Linked DNA regions of Homo sapiens: all the other regions are linked to region 1. The links come from fine-mapping of genetic effects on gene expression. A gene starts in region 1. Each other region holds a variant in brackets. All regions are shown on one strand. Distances are from middle to middle. Region 1 holds the start of CLEC2L (C-type lectin domain family 2 member L). Region 2 has its middle 11 kb from the start of KLRG2. Region 3 overlaps ZC3HAV1L (ZC3HAV1 like). Region 4 overlaps CLEC2L (C-type lectin domain family 2 member L).

Evidence for each region. PIP is the estimated chance that this variant, and not a neighbour inherited with it, causes the effect.
Region 2: its variant is fine-mapped to the expression of CLEC2L in nucleus accumbens (GTEx, PIP 0.90).
Region 3: its variant is fine-mapped to the expression of CLEC2L in whole blood (INTERVAL, PIP above 0.99).
Region 4: its variant is fine-mapped to the expression of CLEC2L in whole blood (INTERVAL, PIP 0.90).

What each region holds. Positions count from the first base shown.
Region 1 is chr7:139,518,743-139,526,845 of GRCh38, forward strand. It overlaps CLEC2L (C-type lectin domain family 2 member L), which reads left to right and starts at 4,943. Exons shown (of 5, transcript NM_001080511.4): 1 at 4,943-5,375. The coding sequence starts at 5,186.
Region 2 is chr7:139,490,863-139,498,965 of GRCh38, forward strand. No RefSeq gene overlaps it. Among named protein-coding and RNA genes, the nearest start is that of KLRG2, 11 kb to the left of the region's middle. RefSeq lists enhancers at 4,111-4,160, 4,721-4,900. The variant C/G (reference allele first, on the strand shown) is at 4,589.
Region 3 is chr7:139,027,806-139,035,908 of GRCh38, forward strand. ZC3HAV1L (ZC3HAV1 like) reads right to left here. Exons shown (of 5, transcript NM_080660.4): 1 at 7,848-8,103; 2 at 6,738-6,873; 3 at 897-1,155. Among named protein-coding and RNA genes, the nearest start is that of ZC3HAV1L, 4.2 kb to the right of the region's middle. RefSeq lists a silencer at 7,550-8,069 and an enhancer at 7,644-8,103. The variant G/A (reference allele first, on the strand shown) is at 3,329.
Region 4 is chr7:139,544,837-139,552,939 of GRCh38, forward strand. It overlaps CLEC2L (C-type lectin domain family 2 member L), which reads left to right. Exons shown (of 5, transcript NM_001080511.4): 5 at 1-149. Among named protein-coding and RNA genes, the nearest start is that of CLEC2L, 25 kb to the left of the region's middle. RefSeq lists an enhancer at 1-91. The variant A/G (reference allele first, on the strand shown) is at 4,177.

The sequences.
Region 1 (8,103 bases):
CCATTCTCCTGCCTCAGCCTCCCGAGTAGCTGGGACTACAGGCACCCACCACCATGCCCGGCTAATTTTTTGTATTTTTAGTAGAGACGGGGTTTCGCAACGTTGGGCAGGCTGGTCTTGAACGCCTGATCCCAAGTGATCCACCTGCCTCAACCTCCCAAAGTGTTGGGATTACAGGCGTGAGCCACCGCGCCCGGCCTAGGGCGGGGGGTCTTGATGGGTTTTATCCATTTTCATGAGCACCTCCTTCTTGAGGAAGTGGACCCTTTCACAGCCGTAAGGGTCATTGTCTTTTGGGTTCCCCCCAAAACATACCCTGACACAAGGATTTAAGTGCAAGTAATTTATTTCGGAAGTGATCCCAGGAAGCATCAGGAGAGGAGCAGGGAAGCTGACAAGGGCGTGCGGGGACTCTGGGAGGCTTAGATCCTACCTCTGATAGGTCCTGAAGTATTGTGATTGACTGTCGGAAGCCTTCTAAGGTCAGCGCCACTGCCGATGCGTTGGTATTACACCTTTGTTACTCCTTTTATCTTAACCGTTTATTTCAAGAGTTTCTTTGCTGATCTGCTCCCAGACTGGTTTGTACCTGGTACCAAAGTTAATTTTCTTTTTTTTATTTTTTATTTTTTATTTTATTATTTTTTTTTTTATTGATCATTCTTGGGTGTTTCTCGCAGAGGGGGATTTGGCAGGGTCACAGGACAATAGTGGAGGGAAGGTCAGCAGATAAACAAGTGAATAAAGTTCTCTGGTTTTCCTAGGCAGAGGACCCTGCGGCCTTCCGCAGTGTTTGTGTCCCTGGGTACTTGAGATTAGGGAGTGGTGATGACTCTTAACGAGCATGCTGCCTTCAAGCATCTGTTTAACAAAGCACATCTTGCACCGCCCTTAATCCATTTAACCCTGAGTGGACACAGCACATGTTTCAGAGAGCACAGGGTTGGGGGTAAGGTCATAGATCAACAGGATCCCAAGGCAGAAGAATTTTTCTTAGTACAGAACAAAATGAAAAGTCTCCCATGTCTACCTCTTTCTACACAGACACGGCAACCATCTGGCTCTATCTCCCAGGCTGGAGTGCAGTGACATGATCTCCGCTCACTGCAAACTCTGCCTCCCGGGTTCATGCCATTCTCCTGCCTCAGCCTCCCGAGTAGCTGGGACTACAGGCACCCACCACCATGCCCGGCAACCACGATTTCTCAATCTTTTCCCCACCTTTCCCACCTTTCTATTCCACAAAACTGCCATTGTCATCATGGCCCGTTCTCAATGAGCTGTTGGGTACACCTCCCAGACGGGGTGGTGGCCGGGCAGAGGGGCTCCTCACTTCCCAGTAGGGGCGGCCGGGTAGAGGCGCCCCTCACCTCCCGGACGGGGCGGCGGCCGGGCGGGGGGCTGATCCCCCCACCTCCCTCCGGGACGGGGCGGCTGGCCGGGCGGGGGGCTGACCCCCCCATCTCCCTCCCGGACGGGGTGGCTGCCGGGCGGAGACGCTCCTCACTTCTCAGACAGGGCGGTTGCCAGGCAGAGGGTCTCCTCACTTCTCAGACGGGGCGGCCGGGGAGAGACGCTCCTCACATCCCGGACGGGGCGACAGGGCAGAGGCGCTCCCCACATCTCAGACGATGGGCGGCCGGGCAGAGGCGCTCCTCACATCCCAGACGGGGCGGCGGGGCAGAGACGCTCCTCACTTCCTAGATGGGATGGCGGCCGGGAAGAGGCACTCCTCACTTTCCAGACTGGGCAGCCAGGCAGAGAGGCTCCTCACATCCCAGACGATGGGCGGCCAGGCAGAGACGCTCCTCACTTCCCAGACTGGGCAGCCAGGCAGAGAGGCTCCTCACATCCCAGATGATGGGCGGCCAGTCAGAGACGCTCCTCACTTCCCAGACGGGGTGGCAGCCGGGCAGAGGCTGCAATCTCGGCACTTTGGGAGGCCAAGGCAGGCGGCTGGGAGGTGGATGTTGTAGCGAGCCGAGATCACGCCACTGCACTCCAGCCTGGGCACCATTGAGCACTGAGTGAAGGAGACTCCGTCTGCAATCCCGGCACCTCGGGAGGCCGAGGCTGGCGGATCACTCGCGGTTAGGAGCTGGAGACCAGCCCGGCCAACACAGCGAAACCCTGTCTCCACCCAAAAAATACGAAAACCAGTCAGGCGTGGCGGCGCGCCCCTGCAATCGCAGGCACTCGGCAGGCTGAGGCAGGAGAATCAGGCAGGGAGGTTGCAGTGAGCCGAGATGGCAGCAGCACAGTCCAGCTTCGGCTCGGCATCAGAGGGAGACCGTGGAAAGAGGGGAGAGGGAGAGGGAGGGGGAGGGGGAGGGGGAGGGAGAGGGAGAGCCCAAAGTTAATTTTCCTAAAGCATGGTGTGATCATGACCTTTCTCTGCTCAAACACCTTTGATGCTTCCTTGTGCCTACATGAAGTCTGAAGCTTTGGGCCTGGTGTTCCAATGGGGCACTGCCCTAGGAATGGGGGATAGAGCAGTGCCTCTGCCCTCACCCCACAGCTGGCCATCTGGTTGGGGATCAAACAATGACAGTAGGATGTGGCAAGTGCTATGGGAAGAGAGGTGGAGAGTGTTCCAAAGGCCCAAAGGACAGGTGCCACAGTCTGGGATCACAGGAGGCTTAGGAGGCAGGGATTGCTGGTCATGCACATATTCCATTCCCCCCTTCTTCCTAACAGAATCTCTGCATTATTGAGCGTGGCAATGGCTTTAGCTAATTGCCACTATACTCCACAAACTTACTTGAGAAAGAAGTGTCCAGTGGAAGGTAAGTGGAAATCACTGGGGGTTCCAGAAAAACTCTTTAAAGGAGTCTGATTCAACAAGAGGCATGCCCTTTTCCCCTTGGTTCTTCCTCTTTCTGTAATCTGGTGTGCAGGTGTGATGGCTGGAACCACAGTGGCTATAGTGTGACCATGAGGGAATCCTGAAGATGTAGGCTATATACTAAGGATGATGGGAGCAGAATGAGAGGAAGAGCTAGGGTCCCTGATGATCTTGGAGCTCTCAATCCAGCCCTGGGCTGATCACCTCTAGACTTCTTTCAGGTAAAAAAAACACAAAAAACCAAAAAACAAAAAACAAAAACCTTCTTTCTAGTTAAACTCTTACTGGGGTTTTCTGTTGTAGTCTTGTTGAACCTACTCTGAATGAATGCAGTATCCTAGAGACTGTGCAATCAGAAGCATTAGCAGAAATTTGGTAGGCAAACTAGGGTGCATGGGGGCTACAAGGAGGGGTTAGAAGGACCAAGGAGGAGATGTGTTCCAGGCAGAAGGAAGACAGTGTTCAAAGGCCCAGAGGAAAGAGTCAGAATAGTTAGGTGTGTCTAGGGCTGGCAGAGAAGGGGTGGGAGGAGAGGATGCCTTAGGTAGGAGCAGGACTTTGACCATGAGGGACCTTGAGGCCTTGTAAAAAGATGGCCTTAATCCACAGGTAAAGGGACCCCTGAAGGAGTGGTGAGTTTGCACTTTAGGTAGATGCTGCGGGTGTGGAGGGGGAGGGGCTGGATAGGAGGGAGCAAGAGTGGAGGATGGGAGACCCCTTAGAAGGCTGCTGCTGTGGTCGGGCAAGAGAAGGCATTGGCTTGTACTTGGCCAGTGGCTAGAGGGATGGAGTGCAATGCGCAGACTAAGAGTTTAAAAGGGGCCGGGCGGCCGGGCGCGGTGGCTCACGCCTGTAATCCCAGCACTTTGGGAGGCCGAGGCGGGCGGATCACGAGGTCAGGAGATCGAGACCATCCCGGCTAAAACGGTGAAACCCCGTCTCTACTAAAAATACAAAAAAATTAGCCGGGCGTAGTGGCGGGCGCCTGTAGTCCCAGCTACTTGGGAGGCTGAGGCAGGAGAATGGCGTGAACCCGGGAGGCGGAGCTTGCAGTGAGCCGAGATCCCGCCACTGCACTCCAGCCTGGGCGACAGAGCGAGACTCCGTCTCAAAAAAAAAAAAAAAAAAAAAAAGGGGCCGGGCACGGCAGCTCACGCCTGCAATCCTAGAACTTTGGGAGACCCAGGTGGGAGGATCGCTTGAGCCTGGGAGGCCGAGGCTGTAGTGACACTGCACTCCAGCCTGGGCTACAGAACGAGACCCTGTCTCAAAAAATAAAAATAAAAATATTTTAAAAGGGAGAATTCACAAGAGTCAGTGGCCTATTGGATTTGGGGGAGGGAGCAGGAGGAGCTGGGGATGAGGAACTGAAGATGGAGACAGGAACCAGAGGTTGGGGCTGAGAATGGTGGAGGGGGAAGAGGATCAGGGCTGGAGGCGTGGGGCTTCAGGCGACGCGAGGTCAGCTGAGGCAAGGGGCCAGTGAAGGCTCCGGAGGGAGCCCTGGCCTGGGAGTCAGACACCCGCCAAGCACGCACCTGCCTGGCGCCGCCTTCGGAAATGTCCTTGACCTCAAAATTCCACTTCTCAGCCTCACCTGGGGGCATTGTCAGCTAATAATATGTGAAAGTCCCTGGCGCTTAGTAGGTGCTCAATAAATGTTAATTGAATCTGCAACGTCACTTCGCTTGCTCCTTTAGACTCTACTGTCTCTGTGCTCATCGTTCGGACGTTTCTCTCCTTTATCAAGAGTTTGGGGGTCAAGTCACAGCCCCTACCACCCTCTGCTGTGGCTCCAGGGCAGCCGGGAAGAAAGGCGCTCATCTTCCCTGAGCCTCCCTGCACTGTCCCCGCGAACTTTATTCCCATTTTCACAGATGGTGAGCAGGCGGCTGGGGAGATGGAGCTGAGTTAGAACCAGGTCTCCCGGCTCCAAGACTGCGCTCCCAGCTCGACAGCATCCAGCCTCCAGCCCAGGTGGCGGGGTCGGGGAGCCGGCTGTCCCCGCTCCTCCGCGCCTCCTCCCTCTCCGCCCCTGCCCCGCCCCGCCCGGGTCCACGGCTCCCGGCTCCCGCGCGCCGCCTCGCGCTCCTCCCCAGCCCGGCTGTGCGTGGAGGCTGCGGCTCGGCGGGGCAGGCGCTGAGCGCACCGCGGCGGCACCCGGCGCAGAGGCTCCAGCGCGGGGAGCCGGGCTCAGCCCCGGCCTGCCAGCGCCGCGGTCCTAGCCCACCCGAGGCCGGCCTGGGGGGCCCGCAGGGCGCGCGGAGCGCCGAGTGCGCGTCGGGCTGGGCCCCGCACCCCGGTGCAGGAGCGCGGGCGCGGCGCGGCGGAGCGCCCCGCATGGAGCCGGCCCGGGAGCCCCCCTCGCGGGCCCGGCCGCCGCCGCCCCTCGCCGCGCGCCCCGCGCCCGCCCCCGCCGCCCCCAGGCCGCGTTCGCCCGCAGAGGCTGAGGCCCGCGGCCCCGAGGGGCTGCTGCGGCGATCCGGGTCGGGCTACGAGGGCAGCACCAGCTGGAAGGCGGCCTTGGAGGGTAAGCGCGGAGCGGCCTCCCTCTCCTGGCCCAGGGACCCCTGCCCAGGCCCGACCCGCGACCCGGAGGCGGTCAGAGTCACCTTGGCCGCTGTCCCGGAGGGGAGCGCTGGGAGCGCGGCGCCGGGACGCGGCGGAGTCATTCATTTCAGGGCGGCCAGACGCCGGTTCGTGGGGTGGGGTGGGAGGGAACCGGGGGCCACCGCGAGTCACAGCCTCGACCCCGCCTCTGCTGCGACTCCCTCTCTGACCTTGGAGCGGGCTTCACGCTCTGAGCCTTCGTCTCCTCACGCATGAAGGGGACAAACACTGCCTGACACCCACCAGACAGGCGTGTTGAGAGGGTGGCGGAATCTGTGGTCGTGAACACGCTTCGAGTAAAGTAAGAAAGCTGGAGACCCCAGAGGTGGTGCCCGCCCCTGTGAGAGCCGCGGGGACCCCGTGGTGGTGGGGCATGTGGGGAGGGCAGGGCAGGGCAGGGGTGGAGAATCCAGGAGAGGCTCTTCCTTGCAAGGTCAGGGGTCACACCTACTCCTCCATCAGACTGCCTCAGGGAGGGACCCCTGGCCTGCCTCCGGGGCAGTAACCCAAGTAGAGAATTGATTTCAAGTTCATGAGCTCTTTAAGGAAACTTGTATTAGCTACCGCCGGCGGCGTGTGGTGTGGGAGATGCAGGAGTTGGTGAGAGGGTGGCTGGCCCTTTGGGTGCTTCTCAGGGTGCTCCTGGCACCCTGAATCCAAGGACAAGGAGGACCTGGGCAGCATTAACTAGGGAAGCCTGGAGCCTGGATCACCCATCCTTAGGGAGGCAGTGTCAGAAAAGGAGGGCTTCCCAGGAGTAGGTGACCTCTTAGCAGGCGTGGAGACAGAGGGGAAGGTGTTCCAGACCCAGAGCATGACGTATCCCAGGCCAGGTGGTCAGAGCTACTCTGTGCCACGTGGGAACTGAGCCCTGGAGTACTGAGATGGGGCAGGGTGGAGAGAGACGGGCCTGAAGGACCCAGACGGTGAAGGGCCAGCCAGGCCTTGCCCAGGAGCTTGGACTTTGTTCTGAAGGGGCTACTGAGGGGTGGAGATGGTGGGCTTGCCCTTGGAAGACTGGTGGTGGCCCAGAGGGGTGGGACCCAGGCTCGAGGTCAGGGAGGGGGTGGGGCAGTGGACCAGGAGGGACATAACCAGCAGCTGGGCCAAGGCAGGTCATGGGGCTGCTGAGGATGGCGAGGTGGGGATGGTAATGCCAGCCTTCTGCACAAAGGCTATGGGCCAGGGGACGTGCACTGTCCGAGGAAGGGCTGTGCAGACTCTGAAGCTGGACCACCAGACAGTGGCAGGGACAGAGGAGGCGAAGATGTTGCGTCACCAAGGAGAAGAGCTGTAGCAGAGCTGTGGGTTGTGAAGAGTTGTGTGGAATGGATGGAGGTGGTCAGACACCCCCCCGTGACGCTGTCTCCGGCTTTACTGTTGGAGTGGCCCTGTGTTCCCACGCTTCACTCCTGCCAAAGCTATTTCTTGAAGTTGTTCCCTCCTCTTGCCTGTATTTCTTCATTCATTTATTCGTCAGCATTTCTGAAGGGTCTGCCCTAACCTTAACCCCAGCCCCCATGGTAGGGCTGCTTCTGGGCTGCTGTGGCCCTTTAATGCCTCCTGCTTGCTGTTCCTGTCCACCTCCTGCCCTGACTTCCACCCCCTTGTGCTTCCTCCTCCCCACTGTGGCTGGGCTGCCCACCTGCCAGTCAGGCTGCAGAACAGACCACACACCAAGCTGGAAGGTCACCCAGAGGCTGCCTGGGGCCCTGAGTCAAGCCCACTCCCATGCTTAGCATCTTCCTGTGGTCCAGCCTTGCCTCACCATGGCCCCCTGCCTTGCCTTGCTCTCTGACTCATGCCACCTGCAGTCCCCTCCCCTTCCTTCCCCTGGTCTCCCCAGGAGCAGTCCCACTCCTGATGGCCTGTGGTCCTTGGGTACTCAGCATCTTGGGCCTACTGACTTTTCCCACAGGAGTTTTAGAATCTGGAGTCTGAGTCTGGCCAGGGGCCTCCCTTCTGCCAGTTCTCTGAAGGTCTTCTTGGGTGCCCCCAAGCTCCTCTCTTCTGAGAGGAGCCTGGGAAAGGAGCCTGAGAGGAGACAGAGGGAAAGGTGTCCCAGACCCAGAGCACGATGTGTTCTGGGCCAGGTGGCCAGAGCTAGTTTGTCCCATGTAGGAACTGAGCCCTGGAGTACTGGGGTGGGGCAGGGTAGAGAGAGACGGGTCTGGCGGACCCAGACGGAAGGAGAGGTCCTCTTCTGGAGGACCCAGAAGAAAGGAGCTCATGGAGCAGGGCTGCTCCTCTCCAGGGTGCTGCTGCATTGGCCCAGTGCTGGCTTTTGTATTTGTCTCCATCATGCATTCATTCTTTCTGCAACATCCGGGTACCATTCTGGGCCCTGGGCACATTTATGTTCTCTCAGAGGTTCCAGGACAGGGACTGAGGCAGTGTGGGGAGGTGCAGGAAGCAGAGCATCTGGTAAAGCTGGGGCAGAGCCTTCCATTGCCACAGGCTGGCGGGCTTTCCAACTTCCTGGACCATTTGCTTCCTTATCTGCCAAGTCAGGTCATGATTTCTACCTCTCAGGTAGACAGAGGCCCTGGAGTGTGGGCTGTGTGTATGGTGACTCCTCTTCCCAGCTGCCTGGACTTGGCCTCCTGCAGCCCCTGCTGGGGGAGCCCAGGCCTAACTGCAACACTTGG
Region 2 (8,103 bases), 28 kb before region 1:
GTGAAACTCCGTCTCTACTAAAAATACAAAAATTGGCTGGGCGTGGTGGCAGGCGCCTATAATCTCAGCCACTCAGGAAGCTGAGGCAGGAGAATCGCTTGAACCCGGGAGGTGGAGTTTGCAGTGAGCTGAGATTGTGGCACTGCACTCCAGCCTGGGTGACAGAGTGAGACTCCGTCTCAAAAGAAAAAACAAAACAAAACAAAACCCTCCCTTTTAGAAGCTCCATCCCCAGAATCCTTTCCTGTCCAATGCAGCACTTGTGGGATTGTAATGGTGTGGATAGACAGCTGTGGCTCAGGGATATGGGGGGCAGACCTAGCTCTCCTCTGCATTAGTGTCCCCAGCGTTAGCTGACTTTGTCGAGTCTGGGGTTCAATACTTGGAAAGACCTAGATGGGAGCAGGTAGAAGGACCAGGAGACCTGGGGGAGCAATGGAGTAGGGCTGGGCTTGGATATGTGAGACCAGGAAAAGCACTTCCTTGCATCACAGGTGTGTAACAGACTTTTCCTGCCAGGCTGTGTGGGACTCCTGTCACCAGAGACTGAGGGTAGCAAAGGGAGGAGGTACAAGTGCCCAGGAGCACCTTGGTGAAGAGGTCCCAGATTTAAGGATAATAGTATCTTCTTCCCCTCTGAACTAAATCAGCCCATTATGAATGAGATTTGCTAGTCCAAGAGTCTTGAGGCCTAAGTATCCCCCAAATCAAACAGGCCTTGCAAAAATCTAATCAAAGGCCTAGAATACACCACCAGAAAGTCATGACTAAATGTAGAAAATTGTAGTCTAATCAAATATATTAACAGCTATTATGTGTTCATGTGTGTTTTAAGACAAAGGTGGTAATTATTTCTATAATCAGGAAAAAAAGCCATGAAGAAATCATTTTCAGGGAAAAGTGGGGAGGAGTGGAGAAAAGAGTAGAATATAAGGTCTCCCAAATACAAGAATTTGGCAAGTTTCTCTAGCACTGCCCAAGATAGAGAGACACCAGATATTCTGATTCCCTGAGATGCAAGGGACTCATGCCTGCCCCATGCCACCCACTGCCAGGCTCCTAACACTGAAACCCTAAACCAATATGGGAGGGAGAGCTGGCCTGGGAAGTATCAGGGGTCCTTCACCACTAATGTGCAGGTGGCTGGGAGTCTCTCCTCAGTTTCTGTCTTAGTCCATTTTCTGTTGCTATAGCAGAATACCTGCCAGGTATTCTGAGACTGAGTAATTCACAAAGAAAAGAAAAGGCCAGGTGCAATGGTTCATGCCTATAATCCCAGCAATTTGGGAGGCCAAGGCAGACAGATCACTTGAGGTCAGGAGTTCAGGACCAGCCTGGCCAATATGGTGAAACCCCATCTCTACCAAAGATACAAAAATTAGCTGGTGTCGTGGCACATGTCTTGTAATCCCAGCTACTCAGGGGGCTGATGCAGGAGAATCACTTGAACCCAGGAGGCAGAGGTTGCAGTGAGCCAAGATCACACCACTGCACTCAAGCCTGGGCAACAGAACGAGACTTGGTCTCAAAAAAATAAAAAATGAAAAAAAGGAAAAGAAAAGAAAGTGATTTCTTATAGTTCTAAAGACTGGGAAGTCCAAGGGCATGGCAGCAGCTTCTGGTAAGGGCTTTCATGTTGCATCATAACATGGCAGCAAAGGGGAAGGGCAAGTGAGTGCAATAATTTACCCATTTATGCTGTCAAGAGAGGCATTGATTTCACTTAATGATCTAGTCACCTCTTACTAACCTCACCTCCCAACAGTGCCACATTGGGGACCAAATTTCCAACACATGAATTCTGGTGAATACACTCAACACACAGGAGCTTCCCTGTCTAACCCCTGAGCATAGGGCCAGTCTGCCCAGGCCCTGGACTCCATTTCCTGCCAGACTTTCCTTAGGTCAGTCTCACCTGAAGCTTGGCCCAGTTGTCTGTCCCAACATGGTTCCTAGCCATTCCCTTCCCTTTTTCCCTCTCATTTAAAGCTGAATCCATTAGCCTGTTGTGAAAACCTGCCATTGAAAACCGTCTACTCCACCTTGCCTCTTAGACCGGATCCTGCCTGCTTGGTCTAGAGTTTACTATTCTCCCGCAGTCTTAGTGCTACTGCCTCACCATAGGTTCCCCTCATCTATTGTGATTTCTCCAGTTCCTGTTCTGCCTAATCATGGCTCTTTCTTCCCTTCAGAAAACTCCCTGCAGGTAGAAGGAGAGGCCGTGCTGCAGTATCTCCCCCACCTTATATGAATGATCTTGTATTTGGATATACATGTGATTTGGTGACCATCTGCTTTGGCTTTTTTGTTTGTTTTGTTTTGTTTTGTTGTTTTTGAAATGGAGTCTCGCTCTGTCACACAGGCTGGAGTGCAGTGGCGTGATCTCATCTCACTGCAACCTCCACCTCCTGGGTTCAAGCGAGTCTCCTGCCTCAGCCTCCCAAGTAGCTGGGACTACAGGCACATGACACCACGCCTGGCTAATTTTTGTATTATTGGTAGAGGCGGGGTTTCACCATGTTGGCCAGGCTGGTCTTGAACTCCTGACCTCAAGTGATCTGCCCACCTTGGCCTCTCAAAGTGCTGAGATTACAGGTGTGAGCCACGGCGCCTGGCCTTGTTTGTTTTTTTTTTTTTGAGACAGAGTCTCACTGTATCACCCAGGCTGGAGTGCAGTGGCATGATCTCAGCTCACTGCAACCTCTGCCTCCCAGGTTCAAGTGATTCTCCCACCTCAGCCTCCCGAGTAGCTGGGGTTACGGGTGTGTGCTACCACTCCCAACTAATTTTTGTAATTTTAGTAGAGAGGGGTTTCACCATGTTGGCCAGGCTGGTCTTGAACTCCTGACCTCAGGTGATCCACCTGCCTCGGCCTCTCAAAGTGTTGGGATTATAGGCGTGAGCCACTGTGCCCAGCCCATGTGCTTAGTTTTTTAAGCAAGAGATTTTTAAGGAAGTTTTAAAATTTATTTTTAAATTTTTGTCTAAGAGACAGGGTCTTGCTCTGTCACTTTGGCTAGAGTGCAGTGGTGTGATCATAGCTCAGTGGTGCAATCAAAATAAATGCAGCCTTCATCTCCTGGGCTGAAGAAATCCTTTTGCCTCAGCCTCCTGAGTAGCTGGGACTGCAGGGACATAGCACAGTGCCTGGCTAGTTTTTTTAAAAAAATTTAAGAGACAGGGTCTTGGTCATGTTGCCCAGGCTGGTCTCAAATTCCTGGCCTCCAAACGAACCTCCCACCTTGACCTCCCAAAATGCTGGGATTACAGGTATTGTCCAACCTGCCCAGCCAGGGGAGAGTTTTTAAAGGGAGATCTCCTAGCTCAACCATCGTGTCTGCAGTGTGCTATCCCTGATGTCCCTGATCTCACTTTCTTTTTGAGATGGAGTTTTGCTCTCGTCGCCCAAGCTGGAGTGCAGTGGCATGATCTCAGCTCACTGCAACCTCCACCTCCTGGGTTCAAGCGATTCTTCTGCCTCACCCACCTGAGTAGCTGGGAGTACAGGTGTGTGCCACCATGCCCGGCTAATTTTTGTATTTTTAGTAGAGATGAGATTTCATCATGTTGGCCAGACTGGTCTTGAACTCCTGACCTCAAGTGATCTGTCTGCCTCAGCCTCCCAAGGGCTGGGATAACAGGCGTGAGCCACCACACCTGGCTCCTGATCTCACTTTCTTTAAAGTCCAACCCCACCGAACCTCAGGAAACAGCTGTGGAGATGAACTATTTGTTGGTTGAATCCTATCAACTTCCTCTCCTATTTCTGCATTACTGTTGTCCCTTTGGTGGACAGGGCTCCTAAAAGTCAGTGATGAGTAGTAATGTGCTTCTCAACTCTCAGGTATGAGAAATGTCACCTTCCTTATTTCCCCAAGTTACACTGTATCCAGTTCCAGCCCTCATTTGTAAAAATACATGAGAACTTCACTATGTGTGCATTCTGTGACCCCCTCCTCCCAAGAGAGTAAACAAGGACCCCAGGGCTTATTAATGTCCTGAAAAAGGATGCTCACTCTTGGGCTGTGGGTCAGAATTTTGCTGCTTCTTCTTCCTGATGTAGATGTAGTCTCCGGGCACTGGTCTTTCACTGTTTAGGATGTAGATCCCCTTGCCCTTTATGTGGCATTGACAGCCATTGCACCTGCCCACACTCTCAGGGCCACCCCCTACAGGCATCCTTCACTCACACCCTCCCCAGTCTGGGGGCCTGCCACCTCCCCAGACCCTCTGGGAACACCTGTCCCATCAGCCTCCTCCATCCTTGGGCTATTCTTAGCTCTCAGCCCATGGAAGCTTCCTTGATTCCAAACGTCCTGTATTATTATTATTTTATGAGTCTAGGCTTTTAAAAACAAAACACTCAACTCTCCCCTGGGGCTAGGCACACTTCCATTTTCAGGATAAAAAGTCCAACTGCCCTCTTCAGAGGAGGAAGCAGAAAATCTCTCTTTTTTTGGGGGGGGGGTAATGACTCAATAGGAAAGTGAAAGAGCTAATTTTAAACCAGACTCTCTCTACCCATCAGCGGGGTGTTTTTGTCACTGCTGTCAGGAGCAGGGATGATGAGTTGCTCCACTCCAGGGAT[C/G]TCATTCACATCTGCACTGGGTGAATGGCACCCGCTGGGGCTAAGCAGCCCACAGCCTGCTCTGCTGAATGCGCAGCCCTGGTGAACAGCCCCTCTCCTAGAGCCTGTGCCTGGGCCCCAATGGGTTGCTAGACTGCAGAGGAAGATGTGGGGGTCTCCTCACAAGACCCTGACTACCCACTTTGGCCCGACTGTGTGGAGCTCGATGAGGACAAAGAGACTGAATTCATTTAAAACCCACCAGATTCTGGTTCCACCTGGATCTAAGAGATTGGTCCTCCCAGGGAAGTCAGGCCACTGCAGGAAAGCTGGATGTCAGGGTAGATAGCAGGGCTGGAGGCAGCGAGCAGCCTGGGCTGCTCAGGATTAAAGGGGAGACGCAAAGCCTCAGCAGCGCCACAGCCCTCTGGGGGGTCAGTTTTGCCTGATGGTCTCTCGGGCCCTGGAGTTGGCTCTATCAGGACTGAACTGGCCTGGCCACCTCTGCCTGTCCTCAGTCTGAGGTCCACTGCCCAGCCAGGCCCTGGTGCGTGTCAGTCCTGTCTTGCTTCTGTGACCTGCCTTCACCTGTTCTCTCCATCTCCTCTGCCCACCTCAGGACAGGAGAGTATGCTTCCTGAGAGCTGTCGGATATTGGGAGGATTCTGAACACTCAAGGACTTGCCTGTGTGAAACAGAGGAGGGGTCTCACATGACCACCGTGCCTCTCCAGGGACACTCACACACCCCAAAAGGGAGCAGCCCTAGAATCCAGGGATTCCCCACACCCTGCTCCCAAATCACAGTCACTCCATCCTGCAGGCCCCAAAACCAGCACACTTCAAGGCCAGATCCTCCTTTGGACCTTAATCCAAACCACGTGTCCCTTTTCTCTAGGGGCTCAGGGTTACACTCCACCTCCCGCCACACATCCAGCCCTCAGTGCCCCTATTAACCCAAAACTGGCAATGGCAGGGGGAACAACCCAGCCAGGACTTGCTATCCATGGGCATTTTGTGCCAAGCTCTTCTGTACCTGTTGGGACCACCCTCAAGGGTGCAAATCAACTGTGGCCCGGAAAAAGCCTGAAATTCCCTCATTCCCCTGAAAGTGGGAGTTGTGAGGACAGACCCTCCTTGGCCCAGGTTAATAACTCTGGCAATAACCATGGCCTTTAAGGGAGATTGGGGGCACACAACGACACTACAACACATCAACACTAACATCCATGCATATGGCTTGGCTGGGGAGGAGGGTTTCATGACAGCACCACGCGGGGTTGAATCAGACATGTGCTTTTCAAGCAGCGAGAATATCCGGTCAGATATCTGCACAGTCCTTTGTGGTACAAGCATAACATGATCACCAGCCTGTCAAATACGAGGAGTCAGGTGGCTGGAGGAAGATGGTCACAGCCCATAAAGAGGCTTTTCTCCCGAGTAAAAGCCGCATTCGTCAGTTAGAGAAGAATAAATGTCCGATGAGGAGCCTCTGGCTTCAGGGGAAATCTACTTCAGAAAATAGTTGAGGCCGGGCATGGTGGTTCATGCCTGTAATCCCAGCACTTTGGGAGGCCGAGGCAGGTGGACCATTTGAGATTAGGAGTTCGAGACCAGCCTGACCAACATGGTGAAACCTCGTATCTACTAAAAATACGAAAAAATTAGCTGGACGTGGTGCACGCCTGCAGTCCCAGCTACTCAGGAGGCTGAGGCAGGAGAATTGCTTGAACCTGGGAGGTGGACGTTGCAGTGAGCCGACATTGCGCCACTGCACTCCAGCCTGGGTGACAGAGCGAGACTCCATCTCAAAAAAAAAAAAAAAAAGAAAATAGTTTAAATGCTTTGCTAAAATTTTTAATTTCATTTTCTAAAAGTTGGTATCTGGTTGTCCTTTTCTTAATGCAAAGTGAGAACGTTCCCTACCACAGACCCAGTGAATATGATCCAGATTATGTTGCCATGAACATGTGGTCCAAAATGCCTGCTCAGGTTTTCAGGATGCAGAGTTTCGCTTTGCTGAATTCTAAGCAGATATAAATATGTTAAGGGTGAAGAGTAGAGGAGGATCAGGGTCAGATGAATGGGAGAATGAGAAAGAAAGTTGGACCAGTTTGGGTCCTAATCATAAACATCTTGAAGCCGGACGCAGTGGCTCTTGTCTGTAATCCCAGCACTTTGGGAGGCTGAGGTGGGCGGATCACTTGAGCTCAGGAGTTCGAGAACAGCCTGGGCAACATGATAGAACCCCACCTCTATTAAAAATACAAAAATTAGCCAGGCGTGGTGGCAGGCACCTGTAATCCCAGCTACTCAGGAGGCTGAGGGAGAAGAATCGCTTGAACCCAGGAGGCGGAGGTTAAAGTGAGCTGAGATTGTGCCACTGCACTCCAGCCTGGGCAACAGAGCGAGACCCCATCTCAAAAAACAAACAAACAAACAAACAAACAAAAAAACATCATGAGGGCGTCAGACAAGTGGAAATTGTCAGCCATCACTTAGCTCTGGCTGAAGTGAACAAAACCCTTCCGTAGATGTGACCGTCTTTTTTTTTTTTTTTTTGAGACAGAGTCTCACTCTGTTGCCCAGGCTGGAGTGCAGTGGCTCGATCTCTGCTAACTACAATCCCCGCCTCCCAGGTTCAAATGGTTCTCATGCCTCAGCCTCCTGAGCAGCTGCGATTACAGGTGTGTGCTACTACACCAGGCTAATTTTTTTTTTTTTTTTTTTTTTTTAGAGACGGGTTTTGCGAAGTTGCCCAGGCTAGTCGCGAGCTCCTGAGCTCAAGTGATGCGCCCACCTCAGCCTCCCAAAGTACTGGGATTACAGGCATGAGTCACTGCCTCCGATATATAGAAGTGATCTTCTAAGGGACAAATCTAACATCTCTAACGATCTTGGGACCAAGTCCATGGATCCACTGAGGTCCACCCTCCTCCCTAAGGGAATAGACACTCCTACTACTGAGTACCCATCAGAGACACCAGGCCCCCGAGGACAAAATCATTTGCCATTTTGTGATCACGGGGGCTCAGACTGCACTTTATAAATCCACATATATAACTCTGATGGGAATTTCAAGGCCCAGCTTGGGAGATCGACCATTGTCAAGTTTAAAGCTTTGCTTTCATTGCTAACAATTCTAGTTTCGTGATGAACCTTTTACACTTCAGGAAAAATCGGTTTATTATTTCACTTGTGGGTAATGGGAGTTTCTAGGGAAGTAGTTCCAAATTGGTTTGTATATAGATTCCTTGGAAACTCCAGTAAAAGTTGGGAACCCTCTCCCTAGTAAATACCTATACATTTCAGTTTCAGGGGGTCACAACCTGAAGCCCACTCATGAACAACAACATAAGGAGCCCTGGTTCCAGGCGGGAGCTCCACCAGCTGGCTTATTGATTCCACTGCATTTTTGCCCAGGACGCTTTCACAGGCCATGGGAGGGCTGTTTTCCACCTGATTCTTCAGAGCCCCAAACTGAGATGATGGGTGACTTTTATCCAGATTTAATACCAGAGTTAAATACCCTGACTC
Region 3 (8,103 bases), 490 kb before region 1:
TACTTTGAGCACAATTGGATTCGTGTTTGTATATAACAGAACTGAAGGGCCTATAATAAAATTGTAACAAGTATAGTAGATTAGAGTGAGCAAAATCATATACAATTTTCATTTCCAGTTGCTATTTTCCAAATTGTTCTGTAATGTCATTAAAATTACTTAAAAATTAACAAAGCCAAAAATTATATTTATGACAAGAAAGCCATCCCTACATTAATCTTACTTTTCCACTCACCGGCCCATCTCCTTCCTCTTTTTCCTAACTATGCCATTAAAACTGTTCTACTAGGCCGGGCGTGTGGCTCATGCCTGAAATCCCAGCACTTTGGGAGGCCAAGGCAGGCAGATCATGAGGTCAAGAGATTGAGACCATCCTGGCCAACATGGTGAAACCCCGCCTCGACTAAGAATACAAAAATTAGCTGGGCATGGTGGCGCATGCCTGTAGTCTCAGCTACTCGGGAGGCTGAGGCAGAAGAATCGCTTGAACCCGGGAGGCAGAGGATGCAGTGAGCCCCGATCGCGCCACTGCACTCTAGCCTGGGCGACAGACTGAGACTCTGTCTCAAAAAAAAAAACAAAAACAAAACCTGTTCTACCTACTTCCTGACATCCAATTTACCAACAAGCTACTGTTCAATCACTTGGGTAGATTCTAGTAGCTAGCAGTGACAGTGCTAAAGATAAACTCCATCCCTTCTCTCCTTTGGTTAGGATCACCGTTCTATACAATACAATGTTGCCTGTTCTAAACTTTCCCAAGAACAAAGATGAAATTAACATAGGAACTGCTTTGCCCCCAGACTCACTTTCATGTCACTGTTCTTACTTCTTCACAGTGAAGCATCGCAAAACCATATCGCTGATACTTCTCTGTCCTTCTTGGATATTCCTACCTGTATTTTCAAGCATCTTGTGCAGCTTCATATGCTTGTAGGTGGAGATTATCTGAAAATTAACAACACTTGGAATATTCAGTCCTTGGTCCTGTAGCAGCTTCAAAGATGCAGCATGGATAAGCTGATGGGACCGTTTGCAGGTCTGAAGTTTGCATTCTCCTTTCACAAAGGATTTGCACACATGAAACTTGTTGCATTTATCCTTGAGGTTGCAGTAGCCATACAGGGCTTCCCCTTTGTTGTAGAGCAAACAGACCTGGTACAGAAATGAGGGAACACCTGAAATATTAGTTTTTCTTTTTTTTTTGGCAGCGGGGAGATGGAGTCTCGCTCTGTCACCCAGGCTGGAGTACAGTGGCACCATCTTGGCTCACTGCAACCTCCATCTCCCGCGTTCAAGCAATTCTCCTGCCTCAGCCTCCCGAGTAGCTGAGAATACAGGCGTTCACCACCACAGCCAGCTAATTTTTGTATTTTTAGAAGAGACGGGGTTTCACCATGTTGGCCAGGCTGGTCTCCAACTCCTCACCTCAGGTGATCTGCCCACCTCAGCCTCTCAAAAGTGCTGGGATTACAGGTGTGAGCCACCACACCCGGCCAATATTAGTTTTCACTCTATCTTTTAAGCCAAAAGACTATAGCTTCTCTAGCTAAACTGAAGACTAAATGACATCTTCTGATCACCAGTGGCTGTTAAAATCTTTGGGGGAAAGCCTGATGATAGTGTAGTGGTGCTAACCATACTCCCGCTGCTGTGGGCACTGGCTGCTTGTGACTCACAGCTGCCCCCTCTTACTTTACACTCTCAGCTGAACTGCCCTCTGTCCCCAAAGCCTGTAGCCAATGAATGACTTAGATAAAGCTAAAAAAATGCTAGAGTGCCTCAAAGCTAGACTCAACGTGATCTTTGTTCCACAGCTCCCCATGAATGAAGTCAAGGCCAGACCTTATGTGCTTGTAGCTTTTCCTTCCTTAGACCCTGCTTCCCTCTCTCCCACACTGGGTTTTCCTGAAAAGCCCGCCCTCAAAAAAATCACACATACCTGGGTCTCTATCTCAGGCTCTGCTTCCAGGGAAACCAGTTTCAACGGGTGGCACAAAGATCTAATTTATGATCCAGACGAGGGCATTTTTAGGCTGCAAGGGAGCACTATTAATAATCACACTGGGACAACTAATATAAACTGGGTCTATCCCAGACACACCAAGACCACATTGATAGGGAACTTTATAATGATGGGATCAGGCTGTTGACCCTGAAACCACGCATCAGTCTTGGCCGCTCACACAAAGATGACATTATATGCCTCCTGATGTGATGCAACAGAAATAGAACTGTCCAGGTTTTACTATGAAAGTCTGACATCCCCGGCAACCCCTCAGTCCCAGGCAAATGGGCTGCTGAGTCACCCTAACAATGCTGCACACGTAAAAAAACTCTTGCTATAAAATAAATCCTGGCTGGGCGCGGTGCCTCACACCTGTAATCCCAGCACTTTGGGAGGCCAAGGCAGAAGGATCACCTGAGGTCAGGAGTTCATAACAGCCTGGCCAACACGGTGAAACCCTGACTCTATTAAAAATACAAAAGTTAGCCAGGCATGATGGCACACGCCTGTAATTCCAGCTACTGGGGAGGCTGAGGCAGAAGAATTACATGAACCGGGGAGGTGGAGGTTGCAGTGAGCCAAGATTGTGCCATTGCACTCCAGCCTGGGCAACACAGCGAGACTCCGTCTTAAAAATAAAATAAAATAGAGGCGGAGGTTGCAGTGAGCTGAGATTGCGCCACTGCACTCCAGCCTGGGCGACAGAGCGAGACTCCATTTCAAAAATAAATAAGGCCCGGTGTGGTGGCTCACACCTGTAATCCTAGCACTTTGGGAGGCCAAGGTGGGTGGATCAAAAGGTCAGGAGTTCAAGACCAGCCTGGCCAATATGGTGAAACCCCGTCTCTACCAAAAATACAAAAATTAGCCAGTCATGGTGGCACCTGTAATCCCAGCTGCTTGGGAGGCTGAGGCAGAATTGCTTAACCTGGGTGGCAGAGGTTGCAGTGAGCCGAGATCACGCCACTGCACTCCAGGCTGGACGACAGAGTGAGTCTCCATCTCAAAAAATAATAATAATTAATTAATTAATTAATTAATTAAATAAAGTGAAATAAATCCTAAATCTGATCAAAATTTGAGGGATACAGGAACATGTTCAATAGTACTACAGGAATGTAATCAGTCAAATCTAAAATATGGGAAATCCTACAAGACACAGATGACCTGGTTTAAAATGAAATAGCATCCTATTTATAATTGTGATGCCAATTTTCTAAAATAAATTCGTAACTTTAATGCAATTTCTACCCTTCTCAAAGAATTCCTTTAAAATAGTTTTAGGAATTTAAGTGATTCTAAAGCTTATCTGGAAAAGGA[G/A]ACATGAACTGATTAAACAAACAAACAAAATTAGACAGGCACAGTGGCTCATGGCTGTACTCCTAGCACTTTGGGAGACCAAGGATGGCAAATTGCTTGAGCCAAGGAGTTCAAGACCAGCCTAGGCAACACAGCAAGACTCTGTCTCTACAGAAAAATTTAAAAAGTGGACTGGGCACAGTGGCTCATGCCTGTAATCCTAACACTGTGGGAGGCCAAGGCAGGCGGATTGCCTGAGCTCAGGAGTTTGAGATCAGCCTGAGCAACATGGTGAAACCCTGTCTCTACTAAAAACACAACGAATTAACTAGGCATGGTGGCACTTGCTTGCAGTCCCAGCTACTAGGGAGGCTGAGGCACGAGAATTGCTTGAACCTGGGAGGCAGAGGTGGCAATGAGCTAAGATCACGCCACTGCACTCCAGTCTGGGCGACAGAGCAAGACTCTGTCTACAAAACAAACAAACAAAAACAAAAAAAAGTATCTGGGGGCCAGGCGCTATGGCTCACGCCTGTTATCCCAGCACTTTGGGAGGCCAAGGTGGGCGGATCACTTGAGGTCAAGAGTTCAAGGCCAGCCTGGCCAAAATGACAAACCCCATCTCTACTCAAAATACAAAAAACTAGCTGGGTATGGTGGCAAGCGCCTGCAATCCCAGCTACTTGGGAGGCTGAGGCAGGAGAATCGCTTGAACCAGGGAGGTGGAGATTGCAGTGAGCTGAGATCACACCACTGCACTCCAGCCTGGGCGATAGAGCAAGATTCCATCTCAAAAAAACAAAACAAAAAAAAGTAGCTGGGTGCGGTGGTGTACACCTGCAGTCCCAGCTACTCGAGAGGCTGAAGTGCGAGGATTGCTTGAGCCCAGGAGATCGAGGTTGCAGTGAGCTATGACCAGCCTGGGCAACATGGCAAAACCCTGTCTCTGCACTCCAGCCTGGGTGACACAGCGAGACCATGTCTCTAAAAGAGTAAATAAACTTTAAAAATGAAAGATAAACTACTTTAATTAGTATGATAGTGGTTCAAGAATTGGAGATCATGGAAAATAGATCCTACACCTACTCCAAATATAAGGAACAGCCTGTTCCTTATAGATTTGTTAAAATTAAGGAGAATAGGGATATGTAGGTCGAAGGGAACAAAGTTTCAATTAAACAGGATGAATTTCTGGAAATCCACTGTACGGCAAGGTGACTGTAGTTAATAATAACATAATGGCCAGGCACAGTGGCTCACACCTATAATCCCAGCACTCTGGGAGGCTGAGGTGGGCGGATCACGAGGTCAGGAGATCGAGACCATCCTGGCTAACAAGGTGAAACCCCATCTCTACTAAACAAAATACAAAAAATTAGCTGGGCATCATGGTGGGCGCCTGTCGGGAGGCTGAGGCAGAAGAATGGCATGAACCCGGGAGCAGAGCTTGCAGTGAGCCGAGACCTCACCACTGCACTCCAGCCTGGGTGATAGAGTGAGACTCCATCTCAAAAAAAAAGAAATAAATAAAATAAAATAAAAATAAAAATAAAATAAAATAAATAAAAAATAAAATAAAATTTAAAAAAATAACATACTGTATACCTGAAAATTGCTGTCCTTACCACACCCAAAAAATAATAGCCATGTAAAGTAATGGTATGCTAATTAGCTTAATCATTGCAATCAATTCACAATGTAAATATATTAAAACACCACATTGTACACTGTAAATATAAAATTTTTATTTGTCAACTACACTTCAATAAAGACAAAAATTTGATAGAATTCAACTATGAAACTATATAAGCCTGGCCAGGCGCAGTGGCTCACGCCTGTAATCCCAGCACTTTAGGAGGCTGAGGCAGAGGGATCACTTGAGGTCAGGCATATAAGACCAGCCCGGCCAACATGGTGAAACGCTATCTCTACCAAAAAGTACAAAAATTAGCTGGGCATGGTGGCACGTGCCTGTAGTCCCAACTATTCAGGAGACTGAGGTGGGAGAATCACTTGAACTCAGGAGGCAGAGGCTACAGTGAGCCGAGGTACTTCCAGCCTGTGTGAGAGAGTAAGACCCTGTCTCAAAAAAAAAAAAACTATATAAGTCTGATGTTTTCTTGTGCAAGCCTTCTAACTAATGCTTTGAGGTTTGTTTAATGCTTTTATTTTAAAAATTTTTATGACACTATTTTGGCTTTCCGTTTCTTCTTGAATCCATTTTGACAAGCTGTATTTTTCTAGAAATTTGTCCATCAATGCACCAGCATGAAACTTTACCTGTCTATTGTCTTTTTTATTGAGAGAGTGGTAAAAGCAATCATCAGGCATTTCATACAAGAGATGTGAGGCACCATTCTTGCCTCATGCACTGTGTTTTTCCACAGTCCCTGCTGCCCACATGATCACGTTTTGTGCCACATGTCACCTACTTCCAGTCCCAGGTGATGGGGACAAGTGGAGGCACAGGGGAGGCTCCTGTTGTAAGTGCAGCCAACCCATCAGCTGCTCACAAAACACTGAAGTAGTCTAATATGACAAGGTGAGGCTGGGCCCAAGATACATCCTAAAAAAGGGCATACCAAAAAAACATTCGATAGATTTGACAAAATAAAAACACTAAACTTCTATAAATCAAAAAGTACTATAAAATTAAAAGGCAAATAGCAGCGGCACCACGCCTTCTCTCTGAGACAGGAAGGACTGGACCCAGCCTCATAGGTGCAGCCACCCTCCTCTCCCTTCCTGCCAATAACCTGCTTCAGCTACTGCTTGCATCTACTTTGGGCAACATGGTTGGTTGGAATGCCTCTGGCTCACAACCGTGACATACCAGACTTGGCTTCAGTGCTCGAAGAAATGAAACAGGTTATGCATGTCAGGAAGAAACCTGCTTGTTCCTGAGATCAACTCCAGGACTGCCTTCTGGGTACAGATTCTGCTGCCTTGAGAGCAGCCTCTGCCACCTGCACCAAAGGCTCCAGCTCCTACCTCTAGTCTTGTGGCTATCTTCCTTTCTAGACGCTGAAATGCATTAGAGTTAAAATCAGGCCACAATTATGAACTATCCTCTGTTTTCTCAACATCTCCCCTTCTTCCCATCCCTCTTCTGGCCAAGTGGAGGTGTCTATGATAGCATCACTGTGCTAGATTAGAAAATCTTGCTTTTAATTGGTGGTCTTAATTGATGTTCCAATTTTCTCTTGGGATTTGTACTATTTTGTTTTTAAAACTTCTTTGTGTATGGCTAAACTGAAACAAACGTACTATTTCGCCATGATAGCAATTATAAAGGGTACCTTTAAAGCATTTGAAACTGAATCATGTTGCTTCGAAGGCAATTAAAATTAATATGTAAAGCCAAAAGAAAAATAAATGGGGAAAGTACTTGTAGCAAATGTGACATGAGGGTGACTCCTTGGTGACTCACCTCTGGTAAAAGACAGGGGTCATTCTGCAAAAGCAGGATCCGAAGCTGGTTTTCATTGAGACCAAAAAGTCCATGGCTTTTCAGGACCTGCATGTTGACAGGTGTGTGGATATCATGGGAAAGGGTACAGGTAGACCTAAAAGAACAAAGCCCTCGGTCAGATGCCCAGGTGAAGAAGGACCAGTCTGTCCAATTCCTTGCCTTGAGCAGCTTTCAATGTATTTAATACATGTGAAGTTGAGTAATTTTCATGAAACCGGGGATAGTATGGCCTAATAAGCACTGATGGAAAATAAGAAAATTGGGTTGAAGGAACTCCTCTCCCAGGGTCATTTGAATTTTCAGTAGGGATGCTTTGAAGCCAAGGGTCGCCCACCTCGCCTGAGGATGCACATCTGTTCCGTAGGCGACTGCACCTGGCCTTCTCCCCGGCAACAGCTGCCACAGTCCACCAACGTTAAAAAGAAAGCGCCCCTATCCCCAGCACCGCTTTGGCGGGGTGTGTGGCTAGAGACAACCAAGGAAAATTCGGGGCTGTGAAGCACAGCCTGGGGTCAGGAGGCAGCCCCGAACCCCAGCTCTGGCAGTCAGGAACCACAGGGCCTCACCCAAGCCATCCAGCCCTGTTTCCTGGGGTGAGACTGGCTCAGCGCTGTTAAACCTAGAGGGCGCAGACCCGCTTCTGCACAAGTGTGTGGATATGGGGGAGCAGCGATTTCCGGCTAAAGGGTCCAGGGATCTCATGGGATCCTCAGACGCCCCACGCCCCCCACCTCCCGCCAAATATCACCAGAATAAGTGAGCTCCGAAGTCCCAGTCCGGATTTAACCCGGCCGCGTCGCGCAGGATCCGGGGGGGCGGGCGGGGGCAGCAACTTTTCTGGCGTGGGCGGTTGAGACGTCTCCATGGAGAGGACCTTCGCGCCTTTCCGCCCAGCTGCTGGAAGCGCGGGGGAGGACGCCCAGGAAAGGCCTGCGGGAGGGGGTCGTCCAGCCCCGCGTCCCCGGCCCGGGGCAGGACGAAGCCCCCCTTCCCGTCGCTCCCGCTTCCAGCAGGACGGCCAGGCCCGCGGCCAGCGCCCACAGTCCCCGCCCGCCGCCGCCTTCTCACCAGCAGTCCCGGTTGGGGCACTTGCCCAGCATGTGCCGGCGGCAGAAGTGCAGCTGGTCGCAGGCCTGGCACTCGCCGCGCTGGTAGCGGGCGCAGAGGCGCACAGAGGACACGGCCACCACCCTCCAGGCGGAGGTGCCGCCACCGCCCACCGCGCCGGCCGCCGCCTCGGCCTCCGCGTCCCCGAGGCCCTCCTGCGTCTCCACCTCCTGCAGCAGGAAACGCTCGGGCCCGGCGCGCTGCAGCACGTCCCGGA
Region 4 (8,103 bases), 26 kb after region 1:
CCTCACCTAGGCCGGGCCAGCCCCGCCCCGGGCCCCAGAGGTCCCCTGCATCCCCCTTCTTTGCCTTGCCTGGGTTCTCAGGCAGGGCCCCTGCTGTGTCCGTGGTGCTGTTGTATTGGTCACTAACGGAATAAAGAGTTAATATCTCATGTCCAGAGAAGTCTGCCGCCATTTGTTCCAGAGTCAGAGCTCGGGGAGGGGCAGAGAGGGGCACATCTCTGGGTGCCAGTCTGTGGGGGCTACCACAAAATGCACCTGCTCTAGTGCAGCAGATAGCGGTGTGTGAGGATGAAAAAAAAGCACCTTCTGGCCTCAGGACATCGTTTCATGTTGCTAAGCCTTTAAGGTATTCTTACGTGGCTGTTCCAGCTCCTTCATTGCTAGTCACCTCAAGATGACAAACGTTTATTCACACCTACCGCAAGCCAGACACCACACCAGGCATGGGGGATCTCTGGCCTTAATCCCCCAAGAAGCACGCAAGGAGCAGAGGAAACAGTTCAGAAAGTGCTAGAACATTCTGGAACATAGTCAAGGGATGGTTTATTCTGCATCGGGGCAGGATGGAATGAAGTGAACATGAAAATTAGGTGGTGTTCACATTGGGCTGGAAAAGAGTTTGTGAAAGTCTTATGGCCTCTTCCTATCCCCCTTGAGCTGCCTGGGGAGGAAGCAGTCGGGGCATGGGGTTGGCAGGCAATGCCCTCGGGTCTGTGGGGGCTCCATGCTCTCCTCCACACACACTTGAGGCTCCAGCTGTGGAGCCCAGGCCTCTCCAGCCTCCTGATAACCCCGGGCAGATGAGATGTGGGTGGCCTGCCTGGGAGCCCAGTGTGTGCATTTGGGTCCTGGCCCATTTTCAGAAAATAGCTCAGAGAAACCGGGTCCTGCTGTGCTCTGCACAGTCCTAGTACTGGTTTTACAGTCTTCAGACAAAACCACCAACTTGGGTTTGTTACATTTTCCGCGTGCTTTCCAGATATTTCATAAAATACAGGTGGTTTATGGTTTTATATTTTGCTGTCACTGGGAAGCCAGTGGGGCACCTGAGTATACAATAAAGTAGTTAAGGGAATTCAGCTGGTGATGGTGGGCCTGTAGGGGTGGCTGTGAGGGGCTGAGGGGCGAGGAAGTGGTCAGCTGCTGCCACTTCTCCGGTGGGAGTCCCACACTCCCACCTGTTCTCAGTTACATATAAGCCCGTGTTTCTCACCAGTATCCACCCCTCAAAGACAGTGAGGTTCAAAAGCCTCAGTACTTTTTGCTTTACATATGGCAGCTCCCTTAATTCTTGCAGAGATGCCCGAGGCAGGGCACACTTCCAAAGGTGAGTAAACTACCTTGCCAGAGTCCTGAGAACCACGTGGCCGAGGGCTTCAGAGCCCTGCTTTCCTCCTGCCCTGGGAGTTCAGGGAAGCAATGTGAGAGGACACAGAATGGGTAACCTGTGCCGTTCGGGTTTTATTTTATTTATTATTTATTTATTTATTTTTCTGAGAAAGACTCTCACTCTGTCGCCCAGGCTGGAGTGCAGTGGCGCAATCTTGGCTCACTGCAACCTCTGCCTCCTGGGTTCAAGTGATTCTCCTGCCTCAGCCTCCCGAGTAGCTGGGACTACAGGTGAGTGCCACCATGCCTGGCTAATTTTTGTATTTTTAGTAGAGACAGGGTTTCACCATGTTGGCCAGGCTGGTCTTGAACTCCTGACCTCAGGTGATCTGCCTGCCTCGGCCTCCCAAGGTGCTGGGATTACAGATGTGAGCCACTGCGTCTGACCTGGGTTTTATTTTTTATTAAATGATCCAAAGCCTCCTGCCTGAAGCTTTTAAAGCCTAGTGGCAAATAAGCTCTTTTAACTTTAGGTTTGTCCTGGGACCATGCAACAATTCTAAATCAGTTTGGCAGAGCATGTGCCCTGATCCAGGGTCATCCATGTTCAGGCCGGGTGCAGTGGCTCATGCCTGTAATCCCAGCACTTTGGGAGGCCAAGGCAGGTGGATCATGAGGTCAGGAGTTTGAGACCAGCCTGACCAACATGGTGAAACCCCGTCTCTACTAAAAATACAAAAATTAGCTGGGCATGGTGGCGGGCGCCTGTAATCCCAGCTACTCAAGAGGCTGAGGCAGAGAATTGCTTGAACCTGGGACACGGAGGTTGCAGTGAGCCGAGATCGCACCACTGCACTCCAGCCTGGGCGACAGAGGGAGACTCTGTCTTAAAAAAAAAAAAGAAAGATTTTTTCAAACTCTTTTCTACCAATGAAGGAAGTACAAGATAAAAACAAAACCCTGTACACCTAACTTCAGAAATGTCAGAAATCCTTCCAAGGGTTACAGACCAGCCAGGCCACCCCTGTCCCCTTTGTGGGCTGAACAACAGGCTCAGTTTGCGTGGCCTTGGCACCCCGTGCTGTGTTCTCAGCAGCTAGAGGCAGCAGCACTGAGGGCAGACATGCTACTTGTTTCTGATCCCCAGAGCTCATGTCTCCTTCAGCAAGGAGGGTCTGTAGGACCGCATCTCCCCAAGTCTCGCTCCTTATCCCCTGGGGCAGATTTTTCCTTTTTGGGGTGACTGGCCTTGGAGCTCAGAGCTGGGGAAGGTGCTCCCTAGGCAAATTTGAGCCCTAATCCCAGTAGGCAGGGGGCTAGTAGAAGCCGGAGCACACACACAGCCACGCACAGAGGTACTTTGTGATGGAGGATACCCAGGAGAGACTTTTTTTTTTATTTAATTTTATTTATTATTTATTATTATTATTATTATCTGAGACGGAGTCTCGCTGTCACCCAGGCTGGAGTGCAGTGGCGTGATCTCGGCTCACTGCAACCTCCGCCTCCCAGGTTCCAGCAATTCTCCTGCCTCAGCCTCCCAAGTAACTGAGATTACAGGCGTACACCACCACGCCCAGCTAATTTTTTGTATTTTTAGTAGAGACAGGGTTTCACCATGTTGGTTAGGCTAGTCTCGAACTCTTGACCTCTTAATCTGCCCGCCTTGTCCTCCCAAAGTGCTGGGATAACAGGCATGAGCCACCGCGCCTGGCCTATTATTTATTTTTTTTGAAAGGGAGTCTTGCTTTGTTGCCCAGGCTGGAGTGCAGTGGTGCGATCTCAGCTCACTGCAACCTCTGCCTCTCGAGTTCAAGTGATTCTCCTTCCTCAGCCTCCTGAGTAGCTGGGATTACAGGCACGTGCCACCATGCCTGGGTAATTTTTGTGTTTTTAGTAGAGATGGGGTTTTGCCATGTTGGCCAGGCTGGTCTCAAACTCCTGACTTCAGGTGATCTGCCTGCCTTGGCCTCCCAAAGTGCTAGGATTACAGGCATAAGCCACTGCTCCCGGCCCTAGGAAAGACTTTTTAAGAAGCTTTACTGGGTGGTAGCATTTGGTGCTGTCCTAGAGGATTAACTAGTATTGTATGCATCTTCCTCATAGCCCTGCCAGGTCAGCATGATCAGCCCAGCTCAGCAGCTATGGGACTTGCCCCATAGTATACAGTTGGGAGGTGGCAAAGCCAGGATTTGTTGGGTGGTGGCAAAGCCAGGATTTGAACCCAGACCCATCCCCACAGGGACCTCGGAAAGCTGCATGTATGGCAGGTGAGCTGCATGTGTCAGGTGAGCTGCATGTGTGGCAGGTGAGCTGCCTGCTGTGCTGGCCAGCCCTGAGGATGGAGCGGCACTGGTGGGTGTGCCAGTGGCTGAGAAGGGGCCACCCTGGGAAAGGACATCTGCATGCCCACGGGCAATTCTTTTTCTGGATGACTTTATCTTCATCACACGATATTCAGTGAATTACCCATGGAAGAGTGGGTGATGTGAAGAATGACTTCTGTCCTTCTCTTCCTTTAAGGCCCAGCTCCAGCCTCCCTGGGATGCCTCCCTGGCAGCAACAGCACTCGTGACCACTCCCTTTGCCCAAAGTCTCTGCCTCTTAAGACTGAGCCTCTTACATGGCCCTGTGTCTGTGTGGCCTTGTCATCTTGTGACTCTTCTCTTTGTGTCATCTGACCATTCCTGTCATCTGACCATTCCTGTCATCTGATTATAAGCCTCTCCATAGTGGCCCCTAGATGGCAGGGACTGTGTGTTTTTGGTCTCTTTTTAGTACACATAGCAGATGCTCAGAAATTGCTGTATATGATAATAAGATTGCCTGTAGTGTCATCTGTGAACT[A/G]TTTGCTATGGTGGGAGGTAGTGATGGCTGGCTATTGTCCAGAGCCTTGTCTTTTTGGTTTTGGTGGCATGATTTCAGAGGCACAGCCAATGTGAGCTCCTTGCTTATGTTAAATGAGCTCATTCACATTCCCTAAGTGTGCACATGCTGGATGGGTTGAGGGTGGGGTGGCCCAAAAGTCCAGGGGTGCTGAGGGAAAGCTGCCTCTATCTCCCGAGTGTCCTTCACATCACACACTAAGCCCAGTGATGAGGAGACAGCTGGAAGAGGAAGCCAGGCCCGGGAATGTTGTCATCAGTGACCGGGGTTGGTTTTGAAGGGTCCTGCGATCACTGGGAAAATCCTGTCCATATGATATCACTGTATTGTTCTGTGAGAGGTGACCTGGTTTTCAGAAATGCCCACTCTCTGCTGAGTGCTTGCACCAGAAGCAGGTGGAGGGGTATCTGCCTGTTTCCTCTTGGTCTGTGGCCAGCTCCAAACTGTAAGTATGGGATTCAAATTGGGAGCAACAAGAAAGCCCCTTGCCACACCCATCAGAGATTCCCCGCTGTCTGCCACGGCAGCCTGGAGTGGACGCACTATATACAGCTCCCAAGGCCTGCCTGAATCTGGGTCTGGTTCTACCAACAAGCAGTTGTGTAGCTCAGGCCGCCACATGAAACCTCTCTGACCTCAAGCTTTACATCTGTCTATAAGGCTGGAATAATAATTGCCCTGCTGACTTCACAGGGCTTTGAGAATTGTAAATGTTAATATTTCAGGGGCTAGAAATGATCTACCCCATCTCACTATCCATGAGGCCCAGAGCAGTTAAGTAACACATCCTAGGTCATGTCACTCAGGCCGTGTGGCTCTCCTGTTCTGCTTTATATTCATTATTGCACGTGTCATGCTTTGTTCAATTGTTTACTAGTCCATCATTCATGCAGAGGTGTGAGCTCCTAGAGAGCAGGGACCCAGTCTCACACTCCTTTGTAGCCCTAGCACCTGGTACATACAGAAGGTGCTCCATAAATGTGTGTTGAATTAAACTGATCTTGCCTCCGGGTTCAAATCCTCTTTTCTTTACACCATGCTGTCTGTGATCCTAGAAACCCACATTTCCAATTCAGCTGCCCACAAAGTAGGAAACTTGCAGATGGTTTTGAGAAAAAGATAAATGAGATGACCAGCCACTTAGGATATCTATTAGGGTTCTGTGGTTTAGAGGACAGACTCCTTTTCAGCAGATAAATATACAACGAAGACAAAATTGGAACAACAATACCTGGAATAAGAGTAATAATAAATTGGAATAACAATAACAACATTAATTAAGAGCTTCTTATGGACTAGGTATTGTGCAAAGCATTGTGCTAGCTTCTGTAACAATACCCAAATTTCAGAGGCTGGCCCTTCACATCTGTGGGTTCTGCATCCGCGGGTTCAACCAACCATGGATTGAAACTATTTGAAAAACAAACAATAAAAGAACATAATATAGCAATTATTTGCAGTGGCTCATGCCTGTAATCCTAGCACTTTGGGAGGCCAAGACAGGTGGATCACCTGAGGTCAGGAGTTCGAGACGAGCCTGGGCAACATGGTGAGACCCTGTCTCTACTAAAAATATGAAAATTACCTGGGCATGGTAGCACACGCCTGTAACCCCAGCTCCTTGGGAGGCTGAGGCAGGAGAGTTGCTTGAACCCGGGAGGTGGAGGCTGCAGTGAGCCAAGATCGCGCCACTGCACGCCACAGAGTGAGACTCTGTCTCAAAAAAAAAAAAAACAAAAAAACCCACAATTATTTGCATAGTATTTACATTGTATTAGGTATTATAAGTAATCCAGAGATTATTTAAAGTGTACGAGAGGATATGCGTAGGTCATATGTCATTTTATATAAGAGAATTGAGGATCTGCAAATTTTGGTATCTATGGGGGGTCCTGGAGCCAATCCCTCATGGATGCAGAGGGATAACTGTATTTCTTGCTCACACCACAGACTACTGTGGGTCAGTGATAGAAACCATTTGGCTCCAATCAGGAGCCATTCACACAGCATGTGCACTGAGGGATGTGATAGGTATGACTGCCCTGCACTAATATTTGTCACTTTTCTTTGTCTCCAAGCAGATGGAAGGACTGTATTTCCTGACCTCTTGAAGTTAGGTGTCCATGTGACTTGCTTTTACCAAGGAAAAGTGACACATTGTCATTTTTAGGTGGAAGCATTTAAGAACCAATGTCTGCTTCATATTTTCCCTCCCCATTGTAGTGATTGATTTGGAGGTTCCATAAGACTGAAGCATCCTGGGATGCTAAGCCAATATGTAGGGGACAGGTTTCCTGGAGAGTTGCTTGGACTGGTTTTTTGTTTGTTTTGAGGTGGAATCTCGCTTTGTCGCCCAGGCTGGAGTGCAGTTGCGCGAGCTCAGCTCACTGCAACCTCTGCCTCCCGGTTCAAGTGATTCTCTTGCCTCAGCTTCTTCCTGAGTAGGTGGGATTACTGGCAGCTGCCACCACGCCCGGCTAATTTTTGTATTTTTAGTAGAGATGGGGTGTCACCATGTTGGTCAGGCTGGTCTTGAACTCTTGGCCTCAAGTGATACGCCCACCTTGGCCTCTCAGAGTGCTGGGATTATAGGCGTGAGCCACCGTTCCTGGCTGGCTTGGACTGTTTAAGTGAGAAATAAGGGCTCTGAGATTTTGAGTTTGTTGCTATGGCATATCTTAACCTGTATTAGACAAGGGCCAGATCTGGAGGTGACACACAAAACTTCTGCCTACATTTATTGGCCAGGGTGGTCATGGAAGGCTGAGAAATAGAGTCTAGCTGTATGCTGTGTGGAGTTAAATTCTTGATTTTGTGAGTTTATGTCTTTCATCAATTTTGAAAAATTCTCCACTTTTATCTCTTTAAACATTTTTTTCTGCTGTACTCTTCTGTTTCTTCTCTCCTTCCAAGATTCCAATTAGGGCTGTTATATATGTGTATGTATGTATATGTCTGTGTGTATATATAAATTTTTTTTTTCCTTCTTTTTTTTTTAGAGACAGGATCTCACTCTGTCACCCAGGCTAGAGTACAGTGGTGTGATCATAGCTCACTGCAACCTTGACCTCCCAGGCTCAAGTGATCCTCCTGCCTCAGCCTCCCAAGTGTCTGGGACTATAGGCGTGTACCACCATGGCCTGCTAATTTTTAAGGTATTGTAGAGACACACTCTCCCTGTGTTGTCCAGGCTGGTCTTGAACTCCTGGGCTCAAGCAATTTTTCTGCCTCGGCCTCTCAAAATTCTGGGTGTGAGCCACCATGCCTAGCCAGTTTGAATATTTTCTACTGACAAGTCTTTGAGTTAAGTGTTACTTTCTTCTGCTGTGTCCAGTTTGCTGTTAGATTTTGTTCAATAGATTTTTCATTTTAGATAATGTACTTTTCAATTCTTCAATTTCTTCTTGGTTCTTTTATAGTTTCCATTTCTCTGCTGAAATTATCTATCCTTTCACTAACCAAATATATTTTTAATTTTTCTTTAACATATTCATTATAGTTATTTTATTTTATTCTTTTATTTTTTGTGCCCCCACAGGGATATAATAGTTATTTTAGAGTCTTTACCTGCTAATATCTGTGGGTCTGTTTCTACTGATTATTTCTTCTGCGGCTTATATTGATTATTTATTTTCCTGCTTCTTCCTGTGTCTTATAATACTTATTTTTTGAGCTATAGTTACATATATGGAAATGCATAGATCTTATGTACATTTTAATGAGTTTTGACAATTGCATACACTCATAAAGCCCACATTCTTATCAATTTTCAGAACATTTCCATCATTCCAAAAAGCTTGCTCATGTTTGTTCCTTCCAGATCAGTCCCCACTCCTTAAGGTAACCACTGTTACAATTTCTTTCACTATAGATTAGTTTTGACTGGAC